Homo sapiens: one gene and its partners. The protein of the gene in region 1 interacts with the protein of each later gene in a biochemical or structural test. Each region holds a gene or a part of one and is shown in the gene's direction. Other genes may lie near its edges.

Region 1 (5,601 bases):
CACCACACCCCAGCATGGGTGACAGAGCAAGACTCCGTCTCAAAAAAAAAAAAAAAAAAGTTCATTCATTGTACACTTAGAAATAGTTAAAAAGGTAAACTTTGTTTTGTGTGTGTGTGTATATATATATATATATATATATATATATATATATATATATATGTATTTTTTTTTGAGACATATATGTGTCTGGTTTGTTCGCCCAGGCAGGAGTGCAGTGGCATGATCAACGGCTCACTGCAGCCTCAACTTCCTAGGCTCAAGTGATCCTCCTGCCTCAGCCTCCCGAGTAGCTAGGATTACAGGCACACACCACCATGCCCAGCTAATTTTTTTTTTTTTTTTTTTTTTTTGTAGAGACAGGGTTTTGCTATGTTGCCCAGGCTGGTCTCAAACTCCTGAGCTCAAGCGATCCACCTGCCTCACCTCCCAAAGTGCTGGGATTACAAGTGTAAGCCACCACACCTGACCTGTTTTGTATATTTTACCACAATAAAAAGCCTTTAAAACCCCAAGCAGACAGTTCATTTTCATTCAGGCCCAACTCAGAATCTGATCACAGCGGGGTTTCCCCCCTTTCTAGCGAGTAGCTGAAGAACTGTTTTCTCTCCTTGATGGTATAACTGTCTCTGTGGGTGTTGCTCCCCTGCCGCTCCAGTGGTTTTGTTTTTGTTTTTGTTTTTTTGAGACGGAGTCTTGCGATCTCAGCTCACTGCGACCTCTGCCTCCTGGGTTCAGGCGATTCTTCTCCCTCAGCCTTCCATGTAGCTGGGACTTACAGGCACCTGCCACCACGCCCGGCTCATTTTTGTATTTTTAGTAGAGACGGAGTTTCACCATGTTGGCCAGGTTGGGCTCGAACTCCAGACCTCAGGTGATCCACCTGCCTCAGCCTCCCACAGTGCTGGGATTACAGGTGAGAGCCACTGCACCCAGCCGGCCCCTCAGTCTTTTCCTTCTCAATCAGTGGCACCACCATCTTCCCAGGCTTTGGACATGGTCCCTGACTCACCCTTGCCCCTCACCCCCACACTAATCCACCTGCGAGCTCTGTTGCTTCACCACCTAGACCAGCCCCAAATCCTCAACTGCCCCCACCCTGGGCCACACCTGGACCACTGCTAGAGGCCTCTCATGGGCCCTCCCTGTTTTTCTCTTGCACTCCCCGGGCTTTCTGGCACAAGATGCCCCAGAAGCAGAATCACATATCTCTCCTGGGAGCCAATCTAGTGTGTTTACTGCCCCTGGAGTGTTATTGTTGGCCTTAGAATATGTCCCACTACAGGTTTGCAGAGCACTGTAGTCAAAAGTCATTTGAAATAAATCTTTTCTCTGTGGTATATTGTCAATTTGATATAGAATTAAATTTGTTTCTTTTCTTTTTTCTTTTCTTTTTTTTTTTTTTTAAGAGACAGGGTCTTGGCCAGGCGTGGTGTCTCATGCCTGTAATCCCGGCACTTTGGGAAGCCAAGGTGGGTGGATCGCCTGAGGTCAGGAATTCAAGACCAACCTGGCCAGCATGGTGAAACCCCGTCTCTGCTAAAAATACAAAAATTAGCCGGGCGTGATGGCAGGTACCTGTAATCCCAGCTACTCGGGAAGCTGAGGCAGGAGAAGGCTTGAACTCAGGAGTCGGAGGTTGCAGTGAGCCAAGATCACGCCATGGCACTCTAGCAAGACTCTGTCTCAAAAAAAAAAAAAGAGAGAGAGAGAGACAGGGTCTTGCTCTGTCACTCAGGCTGGAGTGCAGTGATGTAGTCATGGCTCACTGCAGCCTCATACTCCTGACCTCAGGTGATCGACCCGCCTCGGCCTCCCAAAGTGCTGGGATCGTAGGCTGAAGCCACCATGCCTGGCCCGAACTCATTTGTTTTTATTTGCATTAAGTGTAATAAGGTTTTGTTACTTTTAGTTTGAATTTTATTTTGGGTAATATAAACATTTACATGATTCAGAAGTCAGAATTACACTGAGGCATGTTCAGCTAGGCCTCACTCCTGTGCCTGTACCCTTACCTTTTTCCCCCTACCCCATGCAGGGAATCAATTTCATTAGTTCCTGGTGTGTCCTTCCTTAATACCCCCCCTTCTTTCTTTGGTAGAATGCAGTAGATATGTTTGCGCTTTGCTCCCTTTGCTTCACAGTGGATCCTGGAAATGACTCCATCGCAGTTCTTAGAGCTCTTGTTTAGTCCCTTTGGATCTGCACAGTACTCCAGTGTGTGGGCGCACCATAAGTTTATTCAGCAAGTGCCCTGGTGATAGGGATCGGGGGTATTGGAAGCCTTTGGCTGGTAAAAATAATGTTGTAGCAAATAACATCATGCATATGTTCTTTGAGATTTCTGGAGGTGTCTCTTTAGCATAGATTTCTAGAAGGCATTCCTTACGTCACGTTTAGGTTTATAGTTTGACCTCATGGTGATTAAGGTATTTGGGAAATGCAAATGAGAGTTTCGAAGAAGCCAGATCTTTCCCATTAGTTCACTGTTTTTCTCTGACATTAGGACCGTCCGGGTTCTAGGGAGCAGCCCTGGCGTTAGGCAGTGCCATGATGGATTGTGTAGAAGTAGCGATTCCCATCTGTCTGCTTTCTTGGCCCACTCTGCTGGTGGCTCCCCTTCCCTCCCTCCTTTATGGGGAGCTGGGGAGCTGCCTAGGGGTCCATTCTCAAAGGCTGATCTCTGGTGGGCAACAGGCCACACCTAGCTTTCCAGGGTTCTTCGTCATTTCCCATTGAGAGCTGTAAGACTCAGAGACATGAAAAGGAAGCTCTGGCTGGGCACGGTGGCTCACGCCTGTAATCCCAGCACTTTGGGAGGCTGAGGCGGGTCGATCACCTGAGGTCAGGAGTTCGAGACCAGCCTGCCCAACATGGTGAAACCCCGTCTCCACTAAACATACAAAAATTAGCCTGGCGTGGTAGCACACGCCTGTGATCCCAGCTACTCCGGAGGCTGAGGCAGGAGAATAACTTGAACCCGGCAGGCGGAGGTTGCGATGAGCCGATATTATGCCATCGGCAACAGAGCGAGACTCCATCTCAAAAAAAAAACAAAAAACAAAACAAGGCGAGCTCTGTGCTGGGACAGATTAGGGACCCCTCTTTACAGCAAGAAAGACTGCTCTGTGGGTTGTAGGATGCCTTTGTGTATGCAGTGGCTCTAGGTGACTCTGGCAGCCACACTCTGGGCCCTAAACTTCTGGAGGAAGATACAGGATAGGGAGGAACTCAGGGGTGAGTCATGGTGGGGACAAGACATTCCCTCACTCTAAGACCTTGTCACTAGATTGGAACATCTCTTGCCTCCCTACACCTGACCTGATGGTTCTGGAGAGATACGTCCTTGCAGCTTCTGAGTCCCAGCACTAAGCAGCCTTTGGTAACTTCCCTACATCATTTGAGTTCTGGTTTCCTAAGGATGCTTGCCAGTGAGTGCCATGGTGCCCTCATTGCACAGTCTGTGCAGTGTAGACAAGAGGGGAAGTCTCTTGGGGTAGACCAGCCGCAAGGCGGTGACTAGCACTGATGTGAACCACATGGGACAGGGGAGTTGTGGGGCTGAGAACACGGAGGGTGGGAGTAGTCATGCTCTTTTCCAGAATGAACTGCTAACGAAGGGACTCGCAGGTGGCTGCTGCTTCTTTCCAAGCTGCCCCTGTTGTTGCAGAGGCTCTGGAGTCCTAGGAGGTTTCACGGTGGCATACTCGACAGAGTACTAGAGCATCATGGCCAGATAGTGATGCTGGGGTGTGGGGCCTCACGGTGGCCATTTCTGACGAGACCCCACCGGGCCAAAGTGATGTGTAGAGAAGGAGCTGCTTCGGTCACCAGAAAAGAACGGGGAAGCCTCCCACACTAGAATAGGTAGGGTGCTCTTCTCCACCGGCAGGAAGGGGATGTATGGCTCTGCCTGGACCACACCTTTTTCCTTGCTCTTCCCTCCGCATCTGCTGTGGCCGAGGCCATTCCTCATCAGGGAACATGTGTTAGAGGCTCACGCCACCTGGGACCACTTGTCTTATCACCCCCAGGACCCTAGGCGGTAGTTTCCTGTGGCCTGAGTTAGCTGATATTTATATAGTGCCATTGTGCCTTTTCTCCTGTGATGCTCACAGTAAGGATGCCTAGATGGGGTTACCTGTTGTCAAGATAAGGAAACTGAAGCACAGAATGCTGAGGTCATTTGCTGGGTTCATGTTTGGAAAGCGGCAAAGGATTTCAGTGCAGGTTGGCTGGCTCCAAACCTGTGTGTGCTTTCCATGACACTGTACTGTGTGCCTCATTGAGCCTCATTCTAGAAAACCAAAAACACACCCAAGGCCCGGCCTTCACAAAGGAGACCCCTCCCCCATTTGGCTCCCTTTCCAGCAGTCGACGGCCTCTTGTCAGCCATCGAGCCCAGAGTCCCTTGAAGTGCGACTCATGCTGGGGTGGTATGCTCAGGAGCCGCAGTGTTTCCGCTCAGAGGAAAGGGCTCTGATTCTCCTGCAGTGCTAGGAGACTTGTGGGTGGCCACAGTGCAGGTCAGGCACACCGGCCAGCACCACCCACAGCCCAAATTCCTAAAGAAATATTTGGGTCCCAGCTTGGCCCGAGTCTCTGTTGTCCTGGGGAAGGACATCAAGATCTGAGTGTATGATGGCCTGGGGCCTTGCATGTGGTGGGGGTCCAAGCCTGCCTCTGCTCACTTGTTCTGCAGACTGGCATGTTCTCTGTGATACTTACATACTTGTTTAACACTTCAGGGAAGAAAAGTCAGAAGACCAGGACCTCCAGGGCCTCAAGGACAAACCCCTCAAGTTTAAAAAGGTGAAGAAAGATAAGAAAGAAGAGAAAGAGGGCAAGCATGAGCCCGTGCAGCCATCAGCCCACCACTCTGCTGAGCCCGCAGAGGCAGGCAAAGCAGAGACATCAGAAGGGTCAGGCTCCGCCCCGGCTGTGCCGGAAGCTTCTGCCTCCCCCAAACAGCGGCGCTCCATCATCCGTGACCGGGGACCCATGTATGATGACCCCACCCTGCCTGAAGGCTGGACACGGAAGCTTAAGCAAAGGAAATCTGGCCGCTCTGCTGGGAAGTATGATGTGTATTTGATCAAGTAAGTAAGAGCAACTCCTATCTCTACAGGGCAGGGAGGGCAGGGACAAGGATCCCTCATGGAGCAGGAAAATGTATGTGCCCAGGGTGGGGTCGGGGGGAACATAAACAATGAACACTGAGACCAGGTGTGCTTGAAATGACCGTGTACAGAGGTCGCTGCCCTGAGTGGGAAGTTCTCAAGGTAGCAGGCCCTCTATCCTCTCCACACCTCAAGTCTTTATCTGGGGATGGAATAGCTGCGGAAGCAGAGGAACTTGCAGAGCTAGGGGTTCAGAGGGGTGAAGAAGCATGTTTCAGTTCTGCCTTTTAAATGATCCCAAAAAGGTTAGCAGTTTTCAAATGACATTTGCAGACAGCCTCATTTAATTCCATGAGAAGGGTGAGCAAAGGATTATCTTGTTGAAACTGATTCCTGGAGAGACTGAGCACCGTACCTGAGTTCAAACTTGGGAATGTTCTAGATGGTGACTCAGGCCCAGGCACCAACCAGCAGAATGGGC
Region 2 (3,529 bases), on another chromosome or scaffold:
CAGCCTTGTCTTGAACTCCTGGCCTCAGGCAATCCACCTGCCTTGGCCTCCCGAAGTGCTGGGATTACAGGCATGAGCCACTGCACCTGGCCTTATAGATATTTTGAAAGATTATATTTCTTATATTAAATAGAGATAGGGTCTTACCATGTTGCTCAGGCTGGTCTTCCTGGACTCAAGCAATCCACCTGCCTCAGACACCCAAAGTGCTGAGATTACAGGTGTTAGCCACCATGCCTGGCCTAATACTTAATTTTTAAAAAACTTTTTCTTTGGAAATAATTTTAGACTTCAAAGAGAGTTGCAAAAATAATACAAATAATAGCCCTATAATCTTCACCTAGATTCCCCAAGTGCATCTTTTAAAACCACAATACAGTGATCAAATCAGAAAATCAACATTGATAACAATTATTAATACATTTTGAATTTAACTAAATTTCTGTTCATTTTCTACCTACAGTAGTAAGAAATGTCTGGGTAACATCAGTGTCACCGAAGTCTGTATTGCCCAGATTGGTCTCAAACTCCTGGGCTCAAGCAGTCTGCCCACCTCGGCCTCCCAAAGTGCTGGGATTACAGGCCTGAGCCACTGCACCTGGTCTGGACTCAATTTTAGTTTTTGAGTTTTGCTTTTTTTTTTTAAAGCAGTACTAACTACTTGTAAAGATGTATATTTCATGACTTTTATTTATTGGAGGTCTTCAAAACAGCAAAGAGAAAATTTATTTTTATTTTTAATTTTATTTTTGAGATGCGGTCTTGTTCCATCCCCAGGCTGGAGTGCAGTAGCGCGATCTTGGCTCACTGCAACCTCCGCCTCCTGGGTTCAACTGGTTCTCCTGCCTCAACCTCCCGAGTAGCTGGGATTACAGGTGTGTACCACCATACCCAGCTAATTTTTGTATTTTTAGTAGAAATGGGGTTTCACCATATTGGCCAGGCTGGCCTCAAACTTCTTATCTCTCGAAGTGCTGCGATTACAGGCATGAGTCACCATGCCCAGCCTGAAAATTTATTTTTTTTCCAAAGGAATAAACTCATTTTAGCTATTACCACTTGTACATCGAAACAATGTTGTGGAGTTTTACTGATCTTATTTTTCCTGTATATTGAAATGTTTTGGTATTTCATCATCCTAGGAATTATTTCATCATTACTCATCAATTCTCAAATATGCTAAAGAGGACTAAAATAATATGACAAAGGGAGAATTATAGAATTGCTTAAAAGGATATGCAGTAGTGAAATAAATCATTAGTTTTACACTTCAGTTTTTAGAGATGGGGCCTCGCTTTGTTGCCCAGGCCGAAGGGCAGTGGTATGATCATAGCTCTCTGCAGCCTCAAACTTCTGGGCTCAAGTGATCATCCCTCCTAAGCATCCTCGGTAGCTGGGACTATAGGTGTGCACCGCAGCCCTTCAGTTTTCTTATTGCTTTTCCCAAAACTTACAGCAACTTTTTTTTTCTTTTTGGATACAGGGTCTCACTCTGTCACCCAGGCTGGAGTGCAGTGGCGCAATCTCAGTTCACTGCAACCTTCGCCTCCCAGACTCAAGCAATCTCACCTCAGCCCTCCAAGTAGCTGGGACTACAGGCATGTGCCACCACACCTGGCTAATTTTTGTATTTTTTTTGTAGAGAGAACGTTTCGCCATGTTGTCTAGGCTAGTCTCGAACTCCTGGGCTCAAACAATCCACCCACCTTAGCCTCCCAAAGTGCTGGGATTCCAGGCATGAGCCAGCATGCCCAGCCTACAGCATCTTTCAAGAAAGTATAAAAGAAGTTGGGAGATACCATCTTAAACATTATGTAAGATGTTAACATTTGGAGAATCTAGGTGAAGGAGTACATGGTAATTTTTATACTATTTTTCAACTTTTAAGCTTTCATTGGACATATTTAAAAATCCATAGTTTTTCATCTTCCTCCTATAATGGCAAAGAGAAGAAAACTGACTACAGAAGACATTTCAGAGGAACTAGTAGATGAATGCTGTGTGACAGTAGTACTCTAGACTGTTAGGATGACGGTAAAGTTATATAAACCAAGTTGTAAAATAAGAGTCTTCAGCCAGGCATGGTGGCGTGCACCTGTAATCCTAGCATCTCGGGAGGCTGAGATGGGAGGATCACTTGAGCCCAGTACTTCAAAACCAGGCTGGGCAACATAGCAAGATTCTGTCTCCACCCATATACATATGTGACTGTACCCTAGATGAGTTTAGAATGTGATTTTTTTTTTTTTTTTTTTTTTGAGACAGAGTTTTGCTCTTATTGCCCAGGCTAGAGTGCCATGGCACAATCTCGGCTCACCGCAACCTCCGCCTCCTGGGTTCAAGGGATTCTCCTGCCTTAGCCTCCCAAGTAGCTGGGATTACAGGCATGTACCACCATGCCTGGCTAATTTTTTGTATTTTTAGTAAAAGATGGGGTTTCTCCATGTTGGTCAGGCTGGTCTTGAACTCCCAACCTCAGGTGATCCACCTGCCTTGGCCTCCCAAAGTGCTGGGATTACAGTCGTGAGCCACCATGCCCAGCGGTGAATTTTTTTTTTTTTTTTTTTTTTTTTAAAGATGGGATCTATCTCACTATGTTGCCCAGGCTGGATTTAAATTCCTGAGCTCAAGCTGTTCTCCTGCTTCAGTTCCCCCAAGTAACTGGCACTATAGGCATCCAGCTAGAATGTGATTTTCTTTTTATAAGAATCAGAACTGGGCTGGGTGCAGTGGCATATGCCTGCAATCCCACCTTCTTGGGAGGCTGAGGTGGGAGGATCGCTTGAGCCCAGACGTTCGAGACCAGCCTGGGCAACATAGTGAGACCCCATTTCTATTTTTAAGAAATGAAAAAAAAAAACAATCAAAACCACTGCACTTTGCCAAAAAGATGTATGATAGTATTCTTTCATCTTTCAAGATATTTGTACACCAAAACTTAGTTGATGCAGTTTGTAAGTGGACAGGTGCCAAAGTTACGTATATGTATAAAGATGGTTAGAAGGAAAAATTATGTAAAAATGAAAAAAAAAATCAGTTTTTTTTTTTTTTTTTTTTTTTTTTTTTTTTTGAGACAGAGTCTCACTCTTGTTACCCAGGCTGGAGTGCAGTGGCATGGTCTTTGCTCACTGCAACCTCTGCCTCCTGGGTTCAAGCGATTCTCCTGCCTCAGCCTCCCGAGTAGCTGGGACTACGGGTGCGTGCCACTGCACCCAGCTAATTTTTTGTAGTTTTGGTACAGATGGGGTTTCACCGTTTTAGCCAGGATGGTCTCAATCTCCTGACCTCGTGATCCACCCGCCTCGGCCTCTGAGAGTGCTGGGATTAGAGGCAAGAGCCACACGCTCAGCCTGGATTGTTCATTCTGATTGACATTTATTAGTCTAAAAATGAGAATGCTTATGATTATGGAGCAAAGAAGATGACTGTTCTCTCCAACAAAATTATGAAGTGAGTTTTCAAAGTATTTCATTTGATGGGCAGAAAGGGAAAAAAAGACCCAGAGGTGATAAGCTAGAACCTTACTAGA
Region 3 (2,403 bases), on another chromosome or scaffold:
ATAGGAGGCAATGAATGTGAAGCAGTAGACTGTAAGAGTTAATGTTGAATTTTTCTACTACACATACCCTATGATCTGTGTGTAGAACACTTCTTCCGGAATCTTTTATTAGGACAGTATTTCACAGAATTTATTAGTATTATTTTTGTTAATTTACAAACCTTTATTCACCATGATTTACCATGTATGCTTTAGTGGCATGAAAGCAGTGGTAGGTAGCAAGGTAGTGAGACTCCAGAATCGAGCCAACAATACAATGCCATTTATTAGAGGATAATGTCTTCAAGCCTGGGATTCCTTATCTTTACACCTCAGATATTGCATTATACATTGAAAAACTAAGAATGAAACTTCAATTAATATTGGTTTCCCTTACTAGAGGTCTTTCTTTATTAGGAATGCCAAAAACGATGTGAATGTATATGTCTCTGCCAAACGCTAAGTCTCATGATTGGCCAAATTTAAGAAGTATTGCTACATTTTAAGAATTAATAAAAATGGCCGGGCGTGGTGGCTCACGCCAGTAATCCCAGCACTTTGTGAGGCCAAGGTGGGTGGATCACCTGAAGTCAGGAGTTCGAGACCACCCTGGCCAACATGGCGAAACCCCGTCTTTACTAAGAAAATACAAAAATTACCCAGGTGTGGCGACGCGTGCCTGAAATCACAGCTACTCGTGAGGCTGAGGCATGAGAATCGCTTGAACCCAGAAGGCGGAGGTTGCAGTGAGCCGAGATAGCGCCACTGCACTCCAGCCTGGGCAACAGAGTGAGACCCCGTATCAAAAAAAAAAAATTAGTAAAAATACATTTTCAAAGAATCTTCACATTTAAAAATTAAAGCTAGGCGCCTGTAATCCCAGAACTTTGGGAGGCCGAGGCGGGTGGATCACCTGAGGTCAGGAGTTCGAGACCAGCCTAGTCAACATGGCGAAACCCCATCTCTACTAAAAATACAAAAATTAGCCGGGCGTGGTGACGCGCGCCTGTAGTTGCAGCTACTGCAGGGGCTGAGGCAGAAGAATCGCTCGAACCCGAGAGGCGGAGGTTGCAGTGAGCCGAGATCACGCCACTGCACTCCAGTCTGGGGCAGAGCAAAACTGTTTCAAAAGAAATAATAATTTTATTCTCTTGTCTATCCATTCGGTAGACAAGTGTAGCGTTACTGCCTCCTTTTTGCAAATAATAAGGATTTTAGGAGACAGACATTATCAGTTCGAGAGCCCACAGGCACTGGACTAGAAGACACAGAAACCTACACTCAAGACCCAAACAAGGAAACAGGAAGGAGTCAAATCAACTTGCATTTCCCCTACCCTCACCGCCCCCTTTCCTTCCCAAGGCAATAGTGTAGGGGACGCCCAGTAAGTTACGGAAAAGGCGGAGACAGAGGTTTCGTTCCCGCCCCTCCAATTCAGTCTCCAAAAAGGTCCGCATAATTGATATATAAGGGGCTTCAGTGTGTAGCAAAGTTGCAAAAGTTAAGAGTTGTTGTTTGTCTTCGATCATGTCTGGTAGAGGCAAAGGTGGTAAAGGTTTAGGAAAGGGAGGCGCCAAGCGCCATCGCAAAGTGCTGCGTGACAACATACAGGGCATCACGAAGCCCGCCATCCGTCGCTTGGCCCGACGCGGCGGCGTGAAACGCATTTCGGGCCTCATTTATGAGGAGACCCGCGGTGTTCTTAAGGTGTTCCTGGAGAATGTGATACGGGACGCCGTAACCTACACGGAGCACGCCAAGCGTAAGACAGTCACTGCAATGGATGTTGTCTACGCGCTCAAGCGCCAGGGACGCACTCTGTACGGCTTTGGTGGCTGAGCCTCACCCCGGCTTTTTATTTAACAGCTCACCCATAAAAGGCCCTTTTCAGGGCCACCTCCTTCGTCACACGAAGGGCTGTAACTGATGACGACTTGGGTTTCGTTTTGTAAATTTGGGATTCTAACTGAGTTAAACCGAGCCGTTTTTAGCGATCTTCCTAAGATGGCGGATGTGCTAAGGAGAAAGGGAAGGCGAAACATTAGAAACTTGTTCAGGTATTTCGATCGCAAACATTCACAGGAAAAGATGGTGGAAATGGTTTGGGAATACCAGCAGCCTTTTATGACGTATGTGATGTGTTTTATTCCCACGTTTCTGAAATTTACTCCTATGTTAGGTGGCTGGGACTTAACTACACTAGCATTACATGTTTAGTTTTTGAGATGGAGTTGCTCTTGTCCAGGCTGTAGTGCAATGACGCAATCTCGGCTCACCGCAACCACCCCCTCCCGGGTTTAAGCGGTTCTCCTGACTCAACCTCCCGAGTAACTGGGGTTACAGGCATGCGCCACCACGCTTGGCTAATTTTTTATTTTTAGTACAGAAGGGGCTTTTCTGTGTTGGTCTGGCTGGTCTCGAACT
Region 4 (3,529 bases), on another chromosome or scaffold:
CTACCTCCTGTGGTTTTTGATTCAAGTCCTGTTCTACCTACTGCCAATTGGAAAGGTACGTTTATGGTAATTCTGTTTTGTTTTAATAAGATGAGGTCTCACTATATTGTCCAGGCGGGTCTCCAATTTCTGGGATCAAGTGATCCTCTTGCCGCAGCCTCCTGAGTCGCTGGGACCACAGGCCTGTGCCATGCTGCCCAGCCTTAGAGTAGTTTAAAGGTTAAAGGCTGTTGTTGGTCATAATTCCCAAAACTTAGTTCATGAAGCCATTTCTCTTGTGCTGTCTGTATAACACTTGCTTATTAGGAGGAACTTAAAAAAAAATCTGATTGAGATTTCTTGTGTAACTTTTCAAACCAAATAGAAAAGAATAGGCTATTTTGCAAAGTAGCCGACTCTCAGTGGAGGTTGCTATGGAAAAAAAATTCACTCTTAGTATGTGTCATTTCAGATGCAGCATTTTAAATGATTAATTGATAGGCTACTGGGCTCGATGGACTTTAGTCTACATCTTTTACTTTAAAAAAGTATGAAAAGTTTCTAATTTTCATCTCTTTCAGAAGCTTGTTGTCAAGAACATTTTACGTTGTTTTCAGATTCCTGCAATATCTTTAAAATTTGTCTCTCCATTGCTAAGTGTAGTTTTTTCTTCTTTCAGTAGAATCCTTTACTTGGATATATTTAAAGAAACATGAGATTCCCTAAGTAATAAATAATTTATTTAAAGATCTTATTCTTAGGGCTTTGCAAGTTTGCCAACTGTCTGTAAACCAAAGGATCGGTTTTACTGGTGAATGCCAGTGATAGGAGGGTAGAGCTGCAGGCTTAATACTGTGGAGTGAGACCATAACTTTAGTGGCTCTAGCAAGGATTTTTGTGATAAAGACCTTCAGTCATTTCTACAGTAAGCCTCTACAGTTAAATTCAGATTCATTTAGGGTAAGGTGATTTCAGAGTATCAAGGAAAGCAGTTTTGGTGTTTAAAGTCATATATGTATATACTCATAGACTAAAGTGACTAAAAGCATATATATTAAAATATATATTAATATTATGCAGTCATCCCTTGATATCCTTGGGGAGTGGTTCCAGGACCTCCTGTACATACCAAAATCTGAGGATGCTGAAGGCCCTGATAAGAAATAGTATAGTATTTGCATATAACCTGTGTGCATCTTCCTTGTATACTTTGTTGCCTTTAGGTTGCTTATAATACCTAATACAACGTAAGTGCCATGTAAATAGTTATCATACTGTATTAGGGAATAAGGACAAGAAAAAGAAGTCTGTACATATTCAGCTCAGATGCAATTTTTTCCGAAATATTTTGGATCTGGTTGGTTGAATCCATGGATGTGGATCCCGTCGATACGGAGGGCTGACTGTATATTTGGATCTATATATTCACAGATTAAAGCCTAACACAGCATTTACTAGACTCCTTTAATAGATAAGGATCATCTGAAATTAGCATGTGGCATTTTACTAATCCTGTGATCTCAAACAGCTTTTACGTTTCTCTTGGGAGAGGAGGAATGCTAGCTAATGAAATCTGTAGCTAATGATAAGATAAAGTAGTTTAGCCCAGAGCAAATGATACTATATTTATATTTTACAGTTTGAAATGAATTGCTACATTTCTGAATAGTTATTTTGTGGGGTAAAACGTGGCTGCATTGAGCAAGTGGACTTTTTACTGAGCCAGTTCTATTGGGTACCATGCCTGTGGGTATCTCTGTGCTGAATGCTGTGAGTGATGCCGAATGAAGAGAGGAGATGGTTCTGATGCATGATGCGTGCTCACAGTCTCTCTCTCTCTCTCTCTTTTTTTTTTTTTTTCTTGAGACAGGGTCTTGCTCTGTTGCCCAGGCTGGAGTGCAGTGGTGCAATCTGCAACCTCCTCCTGGGCTGAAGTCATCTTCCCACTTCAGCCTCCCGAGTAGCTGGGACCACAGGCGCGTGCCACCAGGCTTGGCTAGTTTTTGTATTTTGTATTTTTGTAGAGAGGGGATTTCACCATGTTGCCCAGGCTGGTCTCCAACTCCTGGACTCAAGTGATCCTCCCACCTTGACCTCTCAAAGTGCTGGGATTACAGGCATGAGTCACCACACCTGGTTTCTCACAGTCTCTTATTGCAGATAAAAGAATCACATGAAATGGTTAAATAACTGGATGGGCAATATATATATAATATATAGCAGAGCAAGTAAGCATATGAGTATGCGTCATCAAATAGCACTTGGGTCATAGTAGAGTGGATAAACAGGGTAGAGCCCAATTGAAAAGGACCCCACAAATGGAAGACAATGGAATCATACTGTTACTTTGTAAGAGTATGGTAGCCATTGGTAGATGTTTGAGCTAGGGATCCACTAGATATAAAGGTATTTAAGCACATTTAGTCTTGAGGTGGTGGTACACAGGAGTGTGGCAGGGAGCGTGGCTGTTGCAGTTGCTTGGTCCTACACTAGGAAGTCATTACTGAATTTGTATTTAAGATAAATTCCTGAAGGTGGAATTGCGTCATTAAAGGGCTTGCCACTAGGGTTTTTGAAACATATTACTAAATTTCCATGTTACAAGATATCTTCCTTCTTGGGCGTGTTGAAAATTAAGTGATACTAGAATATATATATGTGTGTGTGTATATATGTATATATGATGGTGATGTGCTTAGTAAATTTGTAAATTTTTTTTCTTTTAAGGTTGTAGAAGGAACGCCTCTTATTGATGGAAGAAGACTCAAGTATAGATTAAATGGTGATTTTCTTTTTTTAAGACTCAAATTGATGATTTGATAGCTTAAACTTCTAAGTGTTAAACTCTTTGTTAAAGCTGATTAGACCAGAGTAGTAAGTGATAAATTATTTCTTAGTAGTTGGAAGAGCAACTGTTTATACCTGTAGCCAACTTGTATAAATTATGCCATTAAAGTAACATAGCCTCTTAGTCACTCTTGTCCACTCTCCAGTTTTATTTTCTTAATAGTGCTCATCACTGTTAGAAATCATTGCACTTGTCTAGGATTTTATCACCTGAGGTGTTACACGGATGTGGGCATCCAGGCCACTCCTGCTGCGTGAGCTGCTCTTGTCCTTGCTCATGTCCTCTGGGTTGTCCCTTGAATATTCGTCACACACACTTCCTGGGCCTTTGCCTGGAGAACTTACCCCCAAACGTCTGACACCTGCATCTTCACCTCCATCTGTCTTCTGCTGAGAGAAGCCTTCAGGTCCCTTTCTCTCCCCTGCTCTGTTTTGTTTTTCTGTCTGACATTTGTGCCTCCACACATCAGTGTATTTGTCTCTTCATTAGGGTCTCTCCACTAGAATGTGGCTTCATGGGCTAGGACTTGGCTATGTTCATTGTGACACTCTTGGTGCTAGGAAGATGGGCATGTAGTGGGTGCTCATTCATATGTGAGTGCTGGATGGATGAGTTGTGAGCTTGCTGGGCAGCTCAATAAATGGATAGACCTTGCTCCCTGTGGGTCCGGCATCTCGCACTGTAAGAGCATGTGCTGAGTGC

The links.
Region 2: the proteins of MECP2 (region 1) and SIN3A form a complex in vitro, tested with the Homo sapiens proteins (2 studies listed by BioGRID).
Region 3: the proteins of MECP2 (region 1) and H4C6 are reported together in a solved structure, tested with the Homo sapiens proteins (one study listed by BioGRID).
Region 4: the proteins of MECP2 (region 1) and LBR form a complex in vitro, tested with the Homo sapiens proteins (one study listed by BioGRID).

What each region holds. Positions count from the first base shown.
Region 1 is NC_000023.11:154,031,705-154,037,305, reverse strand, and holds part of MECP2 (methyl-CpG-binding protein 2), read left to right. Parts: intron 1-444; exon of another isoform or gene 445-3,382; intron 3,383-4,748; coding exon 4,749-5,099; intron 5,100-5,601. UniProt on the Homo sapiens protein: Chromosomal protein that binds to methylated DNA. It can bind specifically to a single methyl-CpG pair. It is not influenced by sequences flanking the methyl-CpGs.
Region 2 is NC_000015.10:75,441,662-75,445,190, reverse strand, and holds part of SIN3A (paired amphipathic helix protein Sin3a), read left to right. Parts: exon of another isoform or gene 1-1,857; intron 1,858-3,529. UniProt on the Homo sapiens protein: Acts as a transcriptional repressor. Corepressor for REST. Interacts with MXI1 to repress MYC responsive genes and antagonize MYC oncogenic activities. Also interacts with MXD1-MAX heterodimers to repress transcription by tethering SIN3A to DNA.
Region 3 is NC_000006.12:26,238,920-26,241,322, forward strand, and holds H4C6 (histone H4), read left to right. Parts: upstream 1-1,473; 5' UTR 1,474-1,506; coding exon 1,507-1,818; 3' UTR 1,819-1,874; downstream 1,875-2,403. UniProt on the Homo sapiens protein: Core component of nucleosome. Nucleosomes wrap and compact DNA into chromatin, limiting DNA accessibility to the cellular machineries which require DNA as a template.
Region 4 is NC_000001.11:225,414,510-225,418,038, reverse strand, and holds part of LBR (delta(14)-sterol reductase LBR), read left to right. Parts: coding exon 1-55; intron 56-2,706; coding exon 2,707-2,761; intron 2,762-3,529. UniProt on the Homo sapiens protein: Catalyzes the reduction of the C14-unsaturated bond of lanosterol, as part of the metabolic pathway leading to cholesterol biosynthesis.